Homo sapiens: one gene and its partner. The protein of the gene in region 1 interacts with the protein of each later gene in a pairwise test. Each region holds a gene or a part of one and is shown on either strand. Other genes may lie near its edges. The genes, in order: SEC14L1 and SLC5A7.

Evidence for each region.
Region 2: the proteins of SEC14L1 (region 1) and SLC5A7 interact in a two-hybrid assay, tested with the Homo sapiens proteins (one study listed by BioGRID).

Annotation. Positions count from the first base shown.
Region 1 is NC_000017.11:77,206,956-77,214,252, reverse strand, and holds part of SEC14L1 (SEC14-like protein 1), read right to left. Parts: intron 4,912-7,297; coding exon 4,777-4,911; intron 2,304-4,776; coding exon 2,052-2,303; intron 940-2,051; coding exon 761-939; intron 336-760; coding exon 230-335; 3' UTR 1-229.
Region 2 is NC_000002.12:108,010,381-108,014,648, reverse strand, and holds the end of SLC5A7 (high affinity choline transporter 1), read right to left. Parts: coding exon 3,788-4,268; 3' UTR 655-3,787; downstream 1-654. UniProt on the Homo sapiens protein: High-affinity Na(+)-coupled choline transmembrane symporter. Functions as an electrogenic, voltage-dependent transporter with variable charge/choline stoichiometry.

The DNA of each region.
Region 1 (7,297 bases):
TGCACAACGTATACAAAATCTATGGCTATTGAGTTAAGTTAGGATCAGAGTTAAAACTACCTGCCAAGGTAGTTTTGGGATCAAACGACTACGTTTACCATCTGAGAGCTATTTGCTATCTAGAGGTGAGAGGAGTCTGTACAATGTCGCCGCTGGGTGGGCGGGTGCAGCTGGCTGTCCGAGGAGGGGCGGCCGTCCCCTCTGCACACTAGGTGCAGGCAGCGCGGCACTACCTGGAGATCATGGAGCTGGAGTGGGACTGGCTGGAGGAGGTGGTGGCGGCACTCAGCTGGGAGAAGCCGCTGTGGCTGGACTCCAGGCTCGTCATGGAACCTCTGTAATGGCACAGGGAGGGGCGAGGCGTGAGGACCACCCTGCCAACCACCCGCCGGCCCACACTGCCTGCTGGACTTCGTGGCCCACCCTGTTCTCTGCTCACTTCTCATCCCCATCAGTGCTTGCAAACGGGGGATGGACATGAGTAACCCACCAGGGGGACCGGCTTCCCACAGCCTGCACGCAGACGGCAGTGTGAGCTAAAGCAAAGGCAGTCAGTCGGCTCTGTCTCCGACACTCTCCCTCTGCAGACAGGCAGGGAGTCACCGTGCCAACAAATGACCCCAAAGCCACTCCCTCCTGGCCCTCCAAGCATTCCTGACACCCGCCGCCACTGCTGATCCTGCACACGGCGTGGGACTGCAGGCTCCCTCCAACCATGCCCAGCTGTCCGCAGCACCTGCTGTGGCGAGGGTGGCCGCACCTGAAATCCTCCGAGCCGATCACCTCGGTGTAGTACATCACTTTACACTTGTGCGAAGAGACCTGCAGGGACGCAAGCACGTCGTCCACCCGGGGAAGGCTGCTGGCGGCGCACGCAGGCATGCTGTGGAATTTCCACTGCAGGATGTAGAAGCCCGGCCACCTGGTCACATGGGAACCCTAGAACAAGTAGGGCAGTGGCAGCTGAGGGCGACTCGCTTCCGACCCCTGGCCTACCACAGGCCTGACAAGCGCCAAGGGGACTGTCTTTAGGATTTCATGTAGCTACGGAAACTATCTCAATGGGATTCAGAACCTGCTATTTTGCTTCAGCAGCAGGTTTGACAATGTCCTTCCCTCTACTGAGTGTGGTCACTCCCGGGTGCTGGGAAGCCCGGAGGGACAAGCTCCATGTCCGTGGCCCTCACGAGGCCTGCCCAGCCCACCCCACCTACGGAGGCAGGAGCCTGGCAGGCTGGTGGCACCCATGCTGGAGGGAGGGCTCAGCACAGCTTCCCTGGACCTGGCCTCACTTTCTCTGACATGCTGCCAATCATCCAGCATGTTCGGGGCTGAAGGCACGTCACCCTAAAGTGAGCCGTCAATCCGTGGAAAGCTCCTTCTCCATTCTCTCCGAAATTCATGACTGGTTAACACAGCTTAGCTGTTCATTGTTTTTAAAATGGACAAAGGATTCTTTTACTCTGCCTCTAAGACCACTGAAACACTGACAAGCCTTACCCCTGAAAACTGTAAAGGCAGCAAAACGATGCATCTATTATGAAGGCCAGAAGCAATGCCCCCGCCCCGAGGCTACTGTGAGCACAGGCACCCAAAATAACCAGCCACAATGTGAAAAGGGAACTGAAAGCATTTGAAACAAATTAGAAGGTTTGGTAATGAGAGCTAATAGTTCTCTAAGTACTTGTCCCTCTTACTTCTATTTAGGGTGATTTTCCTTTGAAAAAGACAAACACAACCCGGTGAAATGAGGCGGGGGGGAAAAATCCTATGAAGCCCAGCTGGGCCCGTGCGTGCGATGCCTTCCCTTCCTGTCACAGGCTGCTTTTGGGAAAAGTCGCAGATTCTGTCCAAAACCACTGCGAGGCCTGAACTCCTTCCTACGAGACCCACTTGGCTTCCTGCTCCTCCAGGCAAGCTGCTCCTCCACAAGCAGGGCCTCAAAAGCTACACAGGGCTGCTCAAGGAGCGAAGCAAAGAGTCTACTCAAGACAGAATCACCTGGCCGTGTGGAGTCACGGATGCGCGATTTGACCTGTGTGTGATTTTACCTGCACGCTTTCTCCTTCTTTGCAGATCAGAGGCGACTCCACCATGCTGTAGTCGCGGCCCAGCTGCCAGACTTTGTCTATGAGCTGCACATTGTTCCCACCCGGAGAGGTGATGCTGTGGGCTCCCAGGGAGTCCTTTTTGGGTGGTTGTGGCGACCTCTTGGAGTGATAGATGTTAAACACAATGTCCCCTTTGCACACGTCGAAATCCCAAGTGATGACTGACGAGGCATCCACAATCTGAATGAGAATCTGAAAAAGAGGCAGCGTTAGGCAGCCACGATCCACGAGCACCAGGCCGGCATGCTGCGAGCGCATCGTGCTCTCCAGGGGATCCAGGGTGCAGGTGCTGAAGCTGGGGAGGGAAACGCTGAATGCGTATGGACGGATCTCTTTCCCCAGAGTCACACACCACCATCCATTCAACCGCTGGATCCTGCTACATGTCATGCACCAAGCTCTGTGTTCTTTGTGACCTGCACCTAGAGGTCCAAGATCTCCCATACACCATCTTCACACACACTCTAAGAGGCCAGGTCTTAGAAACACCAAACACTGTGAGCTCGTACATGAGTGGTTCAGAGGACTGCCCTGGGCTGGACAGAACAGAAGGCCCTGGAGAAGGTGAAAGCTAAAGAAAGAGCAGGCAGGGGAGCCTGAGGACAGCGTTCCCAGCAAGGGGGAAGCAGGGGCATGGAACCGGGCCTGCCGTGTGAGGCTCACACGAGAGAACAGTGGCGAGGCTGGGTGAGCGGGATGAGCCCCTGGCATAGTAGAGATGGGGTTGAGGTGGTCACCCCCTGGGTGCTGAGAACCAATTGAAAACCAAACTTACACAGCACCGACAGAGCTACCCAGGAGGGAATAATCAAAGTTAGTTTCAAAGATTGGGCGGGGGCGGACGTGAGAATGAAAAGCAGCTGTGCAGAGTTCTGCAGTCACTGAAAACTCCACCTAAGGAAGCAGCAGAGCCAGGCCCACGGCCCCTCTCAGCCCATGCACGCTGTCTGCTGTGCCCTTCAGCGCGTGGCTGCTCTACGAGCCGGGCCCCTTTAATCCCACCACTGCCACCTCACCACTGAAACGCCACTTCAGAATGTCCTTCCACAGCAGATTCAGTGAGGTACAAGGGTCCTGTCTAAGAACAGCAGGCGGCACCACGTGGCACGGCCCCCTCTTCAGCAAAGTGGCTCCCCAGGCAGCTCCATCCTGAGGCCTCGGCCCCCTGTGCTGACGGAACCTCTTTCCTGCATTCACAGTGGGGGCCTCCGCTTCAGCCTTCCTTTCAGTTTGTTGCCATCTCGGATCTGTGCTTTATTTAATACCCAAAGCAGAACGGAGGTTTTTACCATGTGGATGTCTACAGATGCCCCCGATTCACACGAAACACACTGCACCCCAAGTTCTTGAAACATGGACAAGAGCGATAGTGCCTAACAAACAAGGAACAAGGACTCGGTCCCTGGAGCCTGCCCTCCCGGTAAGAAATGAATACAGACAATCCTCAAGACGTTATGAAATCTGAGATTCCTCTATGTATGTATCTACAAGTAAGGCACACCAAATCTGTCTCTGCTTGTTCAAACCATGGCAACAGCATTCCCTTATCCACCTGCCCTGCAAGCACCAGGTGAGCCACTCAGGAAGACACCCCAGCAGAAGCCACTGGCAGATGGCTGACCCAGGTGCCACCACGGCAGGAAGCAGGCCGCAGTCAGCTCCCGGCCAGCACCATTGCCCAAGCCAGCACCACATCCTCACTGACACCTGCTCTGCACAGAGTGCCACCATCCTCTCCAACAACTCTGGGCCACGAACCTTGTCCTAGCTGAGAAGGGAGATTCCGCTGCAGGCCCCTCCTGCTTCAGGTCACTCGTGATGCTACAGGACAGACATATGGCATGCACAGGAACACGGAACGCCCTTGCTTCTCTACCAAAAGTGACAGCAAAAAAGGAATACAGGAACACCCTCCTTGCTCCATTAGACTTACAGAAATCGGAAAATCCCCAAGATATCTATAAATAACCAAAACCCAGCCAAGAAAAAGTAGCAAACGGGCCAGGTACAGTGGCTCACACCTGTAATCCCAGCACTTTGGGAGGCCAAGGCAGGTGGATCACCTGAGGTCAGGTGTTCGAGACCAGCCTGGCCAACATGGTGAAACCCCACCTTTACTAAAAATACAAAAATTAGCCAGGCGTGGTGGCGGGTGCCTGTAATCCCAGCTACTTGGGAGGCTGAGGCAGGAGAATTGCTTGAACCCATAAGGCGGAGGTTGCAGTGAGTTGAGATCATGCCAGTGTACTCCAGCCTGGGCAACAGAGCAAAACTCTGTCTAGAAAAAAAAAAAGAAAAAGTAGCACATGAAACTTGTTCAATATAACCATGAAATAAACTAAATTCAGGAGTTAAGTGCTCCAACAAGGAAAGATTAGCTATTCCTATCTCTGTGTTTGGTGGCTTTAGTAAAATGGAGGTCAAGAGATCCAATTTCCTTTCCAGGCACTCTGATCAAGCACAGCTAGTTTCTATTCTGAGAGAGACCCATTCTTCGACGTTGACATTTACTGAAACTAAATATCGAGTGTCAACAAAAGCCTAAAGACAAAGAGCAGAAAAACGAGTGGACTGTTCTGAATGAAAGGCTGCCAGGAAGCCCTGCGAGGGCCAGGCCCTCTGCGGAGGAAGGGCCGGCCCAGGTGCAGGAAGGCGGAGGACGTACCTCATGTGGGGCTCCTTTGAAGACGCTTGCAGACTGGTAGATGGTCTCAGTCCAGAGCTTCAGGTCTTCGTTCTCCAGCTCCTCTGCAGTCCGGTACAGAGATTTGGGGACCAGTCCACCCTCTGGCACTTCGCACTGGAAGAAGAAACACAGCAGTGAAACCTGTGCAAACACAAACCAACCCCACGAAACCCAGACACACCGGCCAGCACTATCCCCCTGCACTCAACTTCTGGAGGTTGCTGAGAAAATGGAAAACACTGGCAGGGTCGTAAAACACTCTGCACTACTGAGCAATATGTTTTTAAAAACCACTTAAATACATGTGTTTTACTCTGCATAAACGGGAACAAGTTGAAGCTGATGTACCACAGAATTCCTACTAAAATGCGTGAGGCACTGCACCCAGTTACTAAAGCTGACTCATATAAGCATTAGGGGTATTTATATTGCCCTGTAAAGGAAAAGTATTACTTTAAGAAAAGAGTTTTGCTCTCAATAGCCACAGGCATTATTTTTATGATAGGGAATTATAGTGAAGATACAGAATCAATGAATAATGTTTTCTGTCTAAAGTCAAATGACTGGTCTATAACACCAGCCAAAAACTAATGAAGAACTTCTTTTGAATTTGCCTGAAACAAGTTGAATTAGAACTTGTACATAACATAAATCTCCTAATTGACCTTGACACAATGACTCCACACTAAAGTTCATAAAATCGAAGTCCTCGTTCTATTAGCCTTGGGAAGCAACTACATAGAAAATAAACATTTCAGTCTTCAGCCTGCAGTACAGCATAAGTGTCAAAGCAGTGATGTCGTGGTGGAAAAATACCAGACTGCCCGCTGGTTAGTAACCTCCGGCCACCAGAGAGCAGGAGGGAACAACCTCCTTTCAACAATCAGCCTCAACAGCAGCTCAGGAGAGAGGTGAAGAAGCCTTAGAAGGCCCAAGTTTTTGGACAGTTCAATTAACCACAAAGACGCTCAGCACCGCAAACACACTACGGAGGTCGGCATGTGACAAACAGGCACAACGCGGTGAGGCAGGTCTCCTTGGGCTCCAGCTCAATTCTTCGTGTCATAATTGGAAGCAGCAACAACACGGGATGGCTAGCTCATATCATGAAAGGAGTTCAGAGGTTTCTACGAACCTGAGCCTGCGGTTTAACCTCATAGGCGCTTGCTAAATTCTGGTCCTATAACCTTTACTGTAACTTACTTGCTCTTTGCATTGTACTGTGATGATGCCTGTAATTTCCTTAAAGTGGAACTGATGAAGTGAAAGCTAAATTCATTTGTTTTCTAAATTTCTCTAACCATTCAGAAAGTCCAAAGTCCCCTGAATGTCCAATTCATTAGCTAAATACCTGAGTCAAACCCAGTGGGTACACATTCCAAACGGGTAACTTTTCATATGAAGGATGACTAGAGAGCCCTTCTGAAAAGGAGCTTCACTCCCTGCTGAGTTCAGCCACCGCCGTGTGCCATGGAACAAGTCACTGGGACTTCTAGAGGCTCTGGCTTCCGTAATGCTCCCAAGACACAACTGTGCACCATGGGCTAGAAGCCTATAAGGACCCCAAGGTTCTGAGCTTCTCTGAGTACAGGATATAGAAGTGGAGGCCTCTGCTTCATTACCCAGCAACTCAGTATATTAAAAACCCCAAACGTATGTTGAGAACCACTTCCCTTCGTTTTTTTACTTTAAAAATGTTATCCAGGCCAGGCATGGTGGCTCATGCCTGTAATCCCGGCACTTTGGAAGGCCGAGGTGGGCGGATTACTTGAGGTCAGGAGTTTGAGACCAGCCTGGCTGACATGGTGAAACCCCATCTCTACTAAAAATAAAACAATTAGCTGTGGGTAGTGGCGCATGCCTGTAATCCCAGTTACTCCAGAGGCTGAGACTGAAGAATCGCTTGAATCTGGGAGGCGGAGGCTGCAGTGAGCTGAGATTGCACCACTGCACTCCAGCCTGTGCAACAGAGCAAGACTCCATCTCAAGAAGAAAAAAAAAAACCAAAAATGTCATCCAGTCTGGGGCAAAATAGTGAGACTCTGCCTCTACAAAAAATTCGCTGGGTATGGTGGTGCACGCCTACAGTCCCAGCTACTTGGGTGGCTGAGGTGGGAGGATCACCTGAGCCCACCAAGTCAGGCTGCTGAGCTGTGATCGCACCACTGCACTCCAGCCTGGGTGACAGAGCCGGACCCTGTCTCCATAAAAAAAAGGACGGGGAGGGGCGGGTGGGAAATTTTGAGAACTGATTCAATTTTTTAACAGTATTTTAGAAAATATGACAGCTCCTCTAAAATTGTTTAAAGATCTGATTCACACAAAGCCGTGTGAATCAAAGCAAGCTGCAATCGTATTTGATTCTACGAATTCTCATTCGTATTTAACAATGAAGAAATGTACAGTATCAACAATTACTTCAATGGTTCTCTTTAGCTTAACCCTGGATCAGAGAAATGGCGGCCAAAAGAAACAAAACAAAAACAAAACATCCAAACAA
Region 2 (4,268 bases), on another chromosome or scaffold:
GGAGCACAATGACAGCCACTTGTCACTTAGAGATTGACTTCATACAACAACTGTTGGTCAGCTGTTTGGTTTGAAAAATGCAGATCTTCTTTATGTGATTGGAACGAATATAATTGGAATCACCTGGCTGACTCAGTCAGTAAGCATGAGACTCTTAATGGATATTATTCTATTGATTTCTTTGATTTACAAAAGACCTGTGTACAATGGTAGAATGTCTTTTCCAAGAAAAACAATTTACATTTGTTTTTGAGCTATGATATATATTGCCCCAAGACTTACGTGAGGTGCAGCATTTCCACTTGGCATTTGCCTATCCTCCAGTAATGAGATGGTTTATTTTGATTTCATTGCATAATTGTCTTGAAGCACCATATATACTTAGTTTAAGAGAGGGCCCCCAAAAGCCAAATTTAGACAATGATACCCTAAATTGACCAGCACAATTTAATACATTGCCATTACACTTAAAGCATTTACACAGTTGCAAATATACTTATTTTAAGCATAATTTTATATAATAATTTGACAGACAAAAATATATGTTCTAGAACCATTATATGCATCTGTCTATGAAGTAGCAAACGTACAATAAATTACACATCATACCAGTGTAAATTTACATGAAGGCTAAAACAGAAAAAGAAATCATAATTTATGTTTAAAATATAATGTTAATTTATTATTTCCAAGTAAAAAGAGGAATAGCCATTTTATTAGATTCACTTATTTTAAGCTTATATTCGTTTCATAGTCACATAAAATTCATTACTTGTAAGTGTAGCAATGAAGTTGTATTTTGATGCTGTTTGAAACAACTTGTTGTTGATATTGCAGTCCAGCTACAAGCTTGCTGATTTGAATATGTGTGGGAAAACAAAGCATTTAAATTACTCAAGAAATATGTTACAATCATATCAAAAGTATGAAAATAAAATATATGTTTTCTTCTAATGTTTTATCCACAGGTGTTGCCTTCCCAGATTAATATAGCCATTGTCTAAATGTTTCGTTTATTTTATTTTCATCTGAGGGCAGATTTTGAAAATCAGGTCTACTGATTGAAGCTGGAAGAACATGTAAATGTCTGCATTACTCATTATGTCAAAACAGAGCACATGATGGGTACAAAGTATACTCTTGCACATTTCACAGCTTTGTGATACAACTGTCTTGGAAATTGGGTGGAAATTTATGCACAAATGTGCATAAGTAAAGACCTTGTGACCATTGTTTCCTTCCTTGCAATCTTAAACTTTTTTGTACTTAAAAATCATCTTGCTAACATTTAGCATATTTGTGGATTAATAACAAACTAGTCTTTTGTATACCTACTTTGAGGGTAGGTGAGGAATAATGGGTTAAATACAATATAATATTATTTATTGGCTTAAATTATTTAAGTTATCTAGTTTTAGTACTTTGAACAGGGCAAACATTTTCCCCCTGTTTCTGTCTATTGTGAGAAATTGAATTACGTGGAAGAAATTTTTACTGTTAACCTTTTTTTCCCCACTGGATTTAAGTGTGGTTGTTGGGACAATTGTTGCCCAACAGAATGGTACAACGTAAAGAGAGAGACCTGTAGAGAGACTATGCCTCCCTGTTGCATTATATGACAGTATGAGTGAGGTGTTTCCTGATGCACATGGTGGAAGTCTGTGCCTCAGCAGGTTGAGACAGATGCTCAGGGTGACAGGATGGATAAAAACCGCCATTCAGGTAGCATGCTGGGTAGCATGGTGCATCTGGAATAATGGTGTTTGCCAGGAATTGTAGTCTCCAGCAATTAATTACTTTTATGTGTCAAATGTTTCAGTATCTGTGGTTTTTCTTTAATGAATTTCTTGCCCCTTTCTCTTTTTTCAATCAATACCTGAGAATCGTGGACTCCCATACTTACTGGTTCCAAAAATATACTTCTTCCATGTACTCCATAGGGTACTGAATAGATTCTGAGAAAATAGATGAATATAAGTAATTCTCTTTTCATTTAGATACATATGATATTCAGTGAAGATTTTGAATGCAATGTAATATTCACCATCAAATTTTGAGAAAGCACTGAAAATATGAGACATGTAAAATTATTTAATTTCCTCTTTTAAAAATTATCCTAGACATTAAATTCATGTTTAATGATAAAGATGTATTATTTGATGCTTTGAGACAATTACAATTAAATCTTATAAAAGGAATTCTAGGGTCAAGGTACAACTTTTATTTTTAATGCTAAACACTAAGTTAACTTCATTTTGTTCATGAGTTGCAGAAGTATTTTTGGAAAAGAAGTGCTTTAGTTTCAACAATTCAGACTCACTTTCTTTATGGGATCAGATTCCCTGATCACTTTTCAGCTCATCACTTCACTTTGCTTTTGTAGACATGGCTCCAGTAATTTCTATAATGTGTGACTGGTGTGAAAACACTTGAAATGGACACAAATCATTACACATACACACACACACATACACACACACACACGTATGAGTGTGTATGTGTAACACCAGAAAAGGAGCAAAATAGTATTTAATGACCAATCTCATGAATGTTATCTAGACATCAAATGTTAAAATTGATGGCTTCTTCACTTTAGGACTTATTTTATTTTTTGCTTTCTTCTACATTTTAAAATTCACTATGTACTTTTTGCAGTAGTTATTTGTCTAGTCTCTAAGGCTGGCTTATGTGAAAAAGTGCCAAAGAGTAGATGCTGTAACATTAAATCTTTCCTATTAATGAATATCTAAAAATTAGTAGAGTTTGTTTTTTTCTAATTTTACTACTATCAGGAGGTGTTGTGGAGGCTTCCCATAAAGTATTCAATGAAATATACGTAAATTTAGCAGTGTGCCTCTCATTAACCGTAACAGATGCTGTGTAGCTACCTCTCCTTACATAAGGCCTAATTTCACTTCCAATATTAACTTATGTATTAATTTATATGTTACTTATTTTATCATGGGGCAAAACTTTATATACTTGAGATAAAGACAAAAATGTACTGTTCTTCCTATTACCTTCTGTTTAATGAACTTATTGCTTTAAGGTTGCTTAATAATCCTTCAGGTACTGTTGTTTATGCATATAGTAGCTATGGAAACATACAAATTAGCCCAGTGCTCTTCTACAAAGATGGATTCAGTTTTCCTATCACCTTGCACATAAATAAATGCCAATACATAATCTTTTGTGTGTTTTCTTTGCCCGTGCTCAGAATATTACATGCCATTAATAAAAGAATAACAAATTGCATATTCAGCAAATGTTATAGCTCAGAACATGAAAGAAGGGGTTAATCATCACACTAAGAAAAATCAGCTGGTTAATTCATTGCACCATTCAAGGGAGTGACTGAAGTTATTCTCATAGCTTCGTGCTATAATGAAACTAGACTCATCAGTGCATTAGCAAACAAAGTTTGTATCAAAACTGTCCAATTTCCTTTTTCTTAGGCTTTTTCACATCTACTTCCTTTTATCATAACAAATATAAAAACTCTATTTGGCCCTTTGTTCTCTAAGTGGAACTTTACTTATTTTTTATACCTAGCAAAACTATCTAGCATCAAAATCAATACTACTATGGATGAGAAACAAAGTTGTTGCTTTCATAGGTGCTTCCTTCTAGCTTGGCTTGTATTTGTGCAATTGCACTTTATATGAATTTTTACTCTCCTGAACATTGTTTATATTTTTAATATATTTTTGTATGCTGCATACCATCTCTCCAGAACTACCCTATTACAGTGTTCTGTTTGCAAAAGCAGTATTTTATTTAGATGGGGTCACTGTAAATTATCTTCAGTCCCAGACCCTTCTGGACTGGAATCAACATCAAGGAAGGCCTCTTTATTGGTGAAAGTTGAGCTGAGGGTCATGCTCTGTCGTGGCTTCACAAGTGCAAGTTCATCTAATTTAATATTTTCATTTTTGACAAGAATTGTCTTATCCATGTTTTCTTCACTGTGTCTTGCAACAACAGCATCAAATACATCTAATTTAGGTGGCAAGGTTCCACTTTCAAATAGATACTTGGCTAGATAGGAGATGCAAATGTTGGTTAAGAATGATGTAACCATGGCAAGTGTTTTAAATGGAAATTTCTGATTATATATACCATTATCATCAGGGTAATAGCCAGGGTAGAAGATCAAGGGCTGAAGATACAGATATGGCTCCCCTCCAGTTATTCTCAGGAAGAGGCCAGAAACATAACCTGCCACGGCCCCATAGGTGTTGGTTCCCTTAACAAAGAGTACACAAAGC